2 linked regions of the Homo sapiens genome follow. The protein of the gene in region 2 purifies or fractionates together with the protein of the main gene of each other region. This does not show direct contact. Each region holds a gene or a part of one and is shown on either strand. Other genes may lie near its edges.

Region 1 (3,648 bases), on a different chromosome or scaffold from region 2:
CAGAGTGAGACTCTGCCTCAAAAAAAAAAAAAAAAAAAAAAAAATGATTTGCTTTTCTCTTATGGGATTTTCTGGGGGAAGAAATGGTATACAAACTGAACAAATAATTTAAATTGCTGCTTGAAATGAGAGCGACAGTGGCTGAGTATCTAACCTCTGCCTACTGGCTACTTGAGAACATTTCATTCTCTTGCCAATTTCCCAAAAAGGTCATTTGTGAACAGTGGAAGCCAGTCAGCCGTGACGTGGACCAGTCAGCATCTTTCTCTGAGACATACAGGGCCTTGCTAAGGCCGCATGGAGGAGGCTCGAGAACATGCCTCATGGAGGTCAGCTAGGGCCTGGGTTCAAATCCCAGCTCCTTTACTTCAGAGAGCTGGGCAACCCTGTTGAAATTTTCTTTTCCTTTTGAGACAGGATCTTGCTCTGTCTGTCACCCAGGCTAGAGTACAGTGGCTGATCATAGCTCACTGCAACCTTAAACTTCTGGGCTCAAGGGATCTTCTCACCTCTGCCTCCTGAGTAGCTGGAACTACAGGCATGCCTGGTTAATTTTTTTATTTTTTGTGGGGTCTCACTTGGTTGTCTGGGCTGCCTTGTTGAAATTGTCTAAGTTTCAGTTTCCTCACTCATAAAATGGGGATTAAATTAATACCTGATGGCCCAGGACTGAAACTCACAAAAAATGCCCAGAACACAGCAAGTGCTCAAGAAACACAAGCAGTTGAACTCCTCCCGGCCCCAGAGCTCAGCAGTGCATGCCAGTCACTCACCGGCGCATATGGGGGGCTGTACTCTCTGTACTTGCGGTGACCTTTCTCACTGGGGCTGAAATCCGAGTCATCTGAGAAGTCAGAGAAGTCATCGCTAGAAGAAGCATGGCGCTGTAATGACAGGGGAAGGAGACTCAGCAACCTGCCACAGGCAGGCCACTCGGGCACAGTCAGCCTCAGGACAAACTATGCTGGCATGTGCCGCAGGGCTCTGCGCTTCACCTGAAACACCTCACCTGGGGCACTTAGTGGCAATGAAGCATAAGCTACCAACTCTTTTAAAAAAGGTCTTTATCCAATTTGAGATAAGCAAAGGCATTAAGAGTGCCCTCTGGGGTGGACAGCAAAAGCTCAGCCCCTGGGGCTCTCAGCCAGGCCCAATGCCAGGCAGTGGCAGTCCCAGGGGATCTCCGACCTACTTTGTGCTTGGATTTCCTCCTCTTCTTCGACCTCCTTTTCTCTTTCTCCCGCTCTTTCTTCCGTTTCCGCTTCAGTCTCCTGTGGGACTTCTCCTCATCCGAATCACTGTGATGCTTCTCCCCCTTTTCTTTCCGGCTTCTCTCAGGCCCTCCGGAGGTATCCTGGGTCTCCTCTGCCCCATCATCTTCCAATTCACCTTCTTCCAACTCTCCATCTTCCCTACAAACAAACCCCAATCCCACCATGAACACAGGGTTTGAGAGGAGACCTCCTAGGGCTCTGGGCTGGCCAAGGCTGACAGGAACCGAAGGCCTGACTGCTGTGAGCGAAGTGAGACCCTGGGAGGACATGGGGGCCATGGCCTCTTGTTCCATCCCTTATCCTCCCCCTGAAAGAACTGTGCTTGCTCCAGTCTAACCTGGCTGGGGGAGGGGTAGGAGTTTAAGGGCATTACCACTAACACCGGGACACATCTACGCCAGATTTCCCAACAGAACTAGTGTTCTTAGAAGAAGAAACCGACAAGGTGCTGTGGTCACATAAGCAGGAAGAGCCCCATCTTGGGGATTCATAATGCTTAACGCTGCACAACTTCCAGGAAGCCCCATAGTCCAGAAACCCACACAGCTCTGCTGTGAAGCACTTGGGGCACTTCTAAACCTTGCTTGACCACAGAAGTCTCTCTCCCAGGGAGCACAGACCCACATCCCCTCCCTCCCAGGCCCAGGATTGCCTGCTGGGCCCCGGGCCCCAGTGAGCTGGGCGTCAGTGCCACCTGAGGCTGAGGGCGGTGGCTGTGCACCGTGGAGAGGGCCTTGGTTCTGAACCAGGGGTGGCCCCAAGCTACCTGGGACCCACCCACAGGCAGGCCTGGGCTGTGGCCTGAGAACCCTCCAAGTACTTTATTACAAAAGCCCCATGAGAACCGCTGGAAACAGGCTCAGAGTCCCAGGTCACAAGGTCTGACCCACCCTCGTCAGTCCCACACCTCTAGGCCGGAGGCAAGCAAACACTGAGCAGCTGGAGGAGGGGGGACGGATCCCAGGCCCCTCCTGAGGGCCTCACATGATACCGGCCCTGCTTTCTCTCCCTCCTCTGACTCACCTCCAGATAGTGGAACCCCTTCTGGCTCCCCATCCTACACTCTTCCAATTCCCCCGTGTCACCCCAATCTCCAGGACTTTAAAAGTGCTCTCCAAACATGACAGACACTGCCCAGTGGACATTCTGCATATGTAAATATCTATGGGGTGGGGTAGGAGTGAGGAAGAAATTGGGTTCAGGAGGGGGAGGCTGGAAAAAGAATCCAGTTTTTGAGCCAAACCCACAGACACAGTGTTCACAAGTACAGGAGTTGGTAAAGGAAAAAAACAATCTTTTTGAATAATTTTAAAAAGCTCCCAAAGTTCCCCATGAATGACCACAAAAAGGCTTGCGTGAGAGCATCCAACTCCTTCCGTCTCAATTAACTAGGACACAAAGAGAAGTGATGTAAGGAGGAAACATCACGAGCCCAGGCCCCAAAAGGTTAGCCACAAATGGAGCTATCTCTGCGGAAAGGCCCGCAGCTGCCCAAGCGGGAGCCAATGTATTAGGCGTGCTTGCCTGAAGGTTCCAGGGCATGTGGCAGACTCCTCCTCCCAGGACCCTCCACTGTCCTTTCGCTTATGTCCCTCCCTTTGTCTGCCTTGGGGCTGCTACCCAAACATCAAGGAGCGCCTCAAGAGCAGCTTTTTCTATGAACTCTCACTCCCAGTTCAAAGGGGATGGGTTCTATTTCAAACCCAAGTGGCCCAGCCCCACAGATACCCCTGGGCAGAGGTCAAGGGCAACTCTCAAAACAGAATGCAGGACACAAAACTCTTTCTGCTGCTTCAAAGTCAACAACACAGGTGACCTGACCCATGTGCACCTTGTGTTGCTTCCCCGACTAGCAAACTTGGAATGGGGCGGGGGTGCAGGCTGCAGTCCTGACAAGGGAGGTGCCTTCCCGCTGGGGTGCGGCCCACAGAAACCAGGCGTGGAGCAAAGTCCTCACTGGACACCTCACCCACACCGAAAAGGGCCACATGACTGGGAAAACTGGTTTTGTCCCAAGGGAGAAGCTGTTACTCAGTGACATGGCAAACTGCCCGCCGCCAGGAGCTGTGCAGACACTGGGAGGTGGCACCCTGATGGGAATACTGGGGGCAGGCCAGGGCCACACCTCAAGAGAAAGGGAGAGACGGACAGACTGAGCGGGAGAAGGCCCGGGACAGACTGGAGGTATACATGCTGGGGTTCCATAAAGAAAAGCTAAGAACAACATTACTCTCGACACTTAAGTCTAGAAGGGATAAAGCTGAGAGGGACATGATCACCACCCAGGCCACTAATATTTTAAATGCCATATCTGTGCCAGGTTGCTTGACTACCTCCTTTTCTGCACTGACAAGAAACTTGGTCCACAAGGCAG
Region 2 (3,648 bases):
TAGCTGGATGTGGTGGCGTGCACCTGTAATCCCAGCTACTTGGGAGGCTGAGGCAGGGGAGTTGCTTGAACCAGGGACGTGGAGGTTGCAGAGAGCCAAGATTGCGCCATTGCACTCCCAGCCTGGGCGACAGAGCGAGACTCCATCTCAAAATAAAAAATAAAAAAATAAAAGTGGAGGGAGAGCTGGAAATTTTCACAAGAAATATATTCAAAATAACCAAGGAAAGGGAAATGAAGATACGTAAGACAAACACACAAAAAAGATCAGAATGAATTCAGGGATCAGATAGGGTGAAAAAGGCAGCTATTCTGGCACAAGGTCCCAACACTTGCAGGTGGAACTGAGACAGACCAAATGGTAGAAATTCCCAGAAGCAGAGAGGGGAGTGAAAGACAGCGTCAGTCACTAATTACTTCCAATATAGGAAGTTCTCTCACTCTAGATCTCTTACCTGAAGGCAGAAAACAAATTTGTGCAAAACAAAAACAAACAAACAAAAAAACTGTGCCTAAAATAATAGCTAACTGCTGAGAACAGAATGGGTAAAGATAGGGAGTTCACTTACTTATTTAGACAAAGGTGAGCTTCAATAAAGATATCCTTAGCTTTTTCAGGGAAGTCCTTTATTTTAAAGTTGGCATCATAGTCTTTTATCCTCCGGATTCTGTAAAATTAAGCCTGAGTATTACTTCTAAAGGTCTTACAATTCCATAATTCACAGCCTACACTGACCTCCATTCATGTCCATCCACTTACTCAATAACTGTTTAGCTTTTTTTTTTTTTTCTTTTTTTGAGTCTCGCTCTGTCACCCAGGCTGGAGTGCAGTGGCATGATCTCGGCTCACTGCAAGCTCTGCCTCCCAGGTTCACGCCATTCTCCTGCCTCAGCCTCCTGAGTAGCTGGCACTACAGGCGCCCGCGACCACACGCGGCTAAATTTTTGTATTTTTAGTAGAGACGGGGTTTCACCGTGTTAGCCAGGATGGTCTCGATCTCCTGACCTCAGGATCCGCCCGCCTCGGCCTCCCAAAGTCCTGGGATTACAGGCGTGAGCTACCACGCCCGGCCAATAATTGATTTTTTAATGTGTCAAGTCCTGGAAATTCAACCTTCTCCCTCTTAAATTAAGCACTCTAAAGAAAGACTAAGACTTCTCATAGTGAAATTTCAGAATTCTAGAATCAAAGATAACATCTGATATGCACTAAAAACAGAAAAAACGGGTTTCTTACAAATGCTCAAGAGTCAAAATAGGCCAGGCGCGGTGGCTCACGTCTGTAATCCCAGCACTTTGGGAGGCCGAGGCAGGTAGATCACTTGAGGTCAGGAGTTTGAGACCAGCCTAGCCAACAGGGTGAAACCCCATCTATACTAAAAATCCAAAAATAAGCTGGGCATGGTGGTGCACACCAGTAATCCCAGCTACTCCGGAGGCTGAGGCACAAGAATCGCTTGAACCCAGGAGGCAGAGGTTGCAGTGAGCAGAGATCGCACCACCGCATTCCAGCCTGGGTCACAGAGCGAGACTCCATCTCAAAAAAAAAAAAGCTGGGCATGGTGGTGCTGTCTGTAATCCCAGCTACTTGGGAGGCTGAGGCAGGAGAATACTTGAACTTAGGAGGCAGAGGTAGTGATCGCGCCACTGCACTCCAGCCTGGGAAACAGAGCGAGACTCCATCTCAAAAAAAAGAGTCAGAATAACACTGGGCTTCTTTTTTTTTTTTTTTGAGACAGAGTCTCGCACTCCGTCGCACAGGCTGGAGTACAGTGGCGCAATCTCGGCTCACTGCAACCTCTGCCTCCTGGGTTCAAGCAATTCTCCTGCCTCAGCCTCCCAAGTAGCTGGGACTACAGGCACACATCACCCCGCCCGCCTAATTTTTGTATTTTTAGTAGAGATGGGGTTTCACCATGCTGACCAGGCTGGTCTCGAACTCCTGTCCTTGTGATCTGCCTGCCTCGGCCTCCCAAAGTGCTGGGATTACAGGCCTGAGCCATGGCACCTGGCAACACTGGGCTTCCTAACAGCAACATTAGAAGTTACAAAGACAGGCCGGGTGCAGTGGCTCACGCCTGTAATCCCAGCACTTTGGGAGGCCAAAGCAGGCAGATCATGAGGTCAGGAGCTCGAGATCATCCTGGCCAACATGGTGAAACCCCGTCTCCACTAAAATACAAAAAATTAGCCAAGCGTGATGGCACGTGCCTGTAGTTCCAGCTACTCGGGAGACTGAGGCAGAAGAATCACTTGAACCCAGGAGGCAGAGGTTGCAGTGAGCTGAGATCCTGCCACTGCACTCCAGCCTGGGTGACAGAGCGAGACTTCGTCTCAAAAAAAAAAAAAAGGAAGTTACGGCCGGGCGCAGTGACTCAGGTCTGTAATCCCAGCACTTTGGGAGGCCAAGGTGGGCTGATCACAAGGTCAGGAGTTCGAGACTGGCCTGGCCAATATGGTGAAACCCTGTCTTTACTAAAAATACAAAAATTAGCTGGGCGTGGTGGCAGGCGCCCGTAGTCCCAGCTACTCAGGAGACTGAGGCAGGAAAATTGTTTGAACCCAAGAGGCAGAGGTTGTAGTAAGTCAAGATCGCGCCACTGCAATCCAGCCTGGGCGAAAGAGTGAGACTCCGTCTCAAAAAAAAAATAAAATAAAAAGTAATTACAAAGACAACAGAGCAGTGCTTTTATTATTCATTCACTCATTCATTCATTCATTCACTGAGACAGGGTCTCACTCTGTCACCCAGGCTAGAGTACAGTGACGCCATCAGGGCTCACTGCAGCCTTGACCTCTGGGACTCATGCAATCCTCCCACTTCAGACTCCCAAGTAACTGGAACTGCAGGTGTGCACTACCACGCTTGGCTAATTTTCACTTTTTTTTAGTTTTTGTAGAGACAAGGTCTCACTGTGTTGCCCAGCTGGTATTCAACTCCTGCTCAAGTGATCCTCCTGCCTCAGCCTCCCAAAGTGTTGAGATTACAGGCATGACCCACCATGCCCAGACTTTGAGCAGTACTTTTAATTGAGGAAAAAATTATTTCTATCACAGAATTAAATACCTGGGCAAATTATAAATGAAGTGGGAGAATAAAATATTTCTTTTTAGACTTGCAAGATCTTATTTATCCACCATGCAGCCTTTCTCAGGCAGCTGCTAGAAAATGTGCTCCACCAAAGTAATGAAATAGACTATGAAAACATAAAGACATAGGATCCAAGCAACAGGGAATACAACGTAAGAGGGAGGCAATCAGCCTGACCAACATGGTGAAACCCCATTTCTACTAAAAATACAAAAATTAGCTGGGCGTGGTGGCGCACACCTGTAATCCCAGCTACTCAGGAGACTGAGGCAGGAGAATCGCTTGAACCCGGGAGGCGGAAGTTGCAGTGAGCTGAGATCGCACCACTGCACTCCAGCCTGGGCAACAGAGCAAGACTCAGTCTCAAAAAAAAAAGAAAAGAAGACGGAGGCAAGAGGAATCTTAGATCCTAAGACGTACAGTTGGCCTTAAGAGCAACTAGTCCAGATTAAAACAGGTAAGAAGACTCCAGGAGGGATTTCTTGAAAAAGATGAAATTAATAAAATATTTAATGTTGCAGGGCGTGGTGGCTCACACCTGTAATCCTAGCACTTTGG

The links. Proteins that work in one complex are often made in the same cells at the same time.
Region 1: the proteins of MRPL45 (region 2) and ZC3H4 fractionate together in Homo sapiens (co-fractionation; one large-scale study listed by BioGRID). This does not show direct contact.

What each region holds. Positions count from the first base shown.
Region 1 is NC_000019.10:47,093,197-47,096,844, forward strand, and holds part of ZC3H4 (zinc finger CCCH domain-containing protein 4), read right to left. Parts: coding exon of another isoform or gene 3,608-3,648; intron 1,413-3,607; coding exon 1,193-1,412; intron 885-1,192; coding exon 774-884; intron 1-773. UniProt on the Homo sapiens protein: RNA-binding protein that suppresses transcription of long non-coding RNAs (lncRNAs). LncRNAs are defined as transcripts more than 200 nucleotides that are not translated into protein.
Region 2 is NC_000017.11:38,303,552-38,307,199, reverse strand, and holds part of MRPL45 (large ribosomal subunit protein mL45), read right to left. Parts: intron 668-3,648; coding exon 569-667; intron 1-568.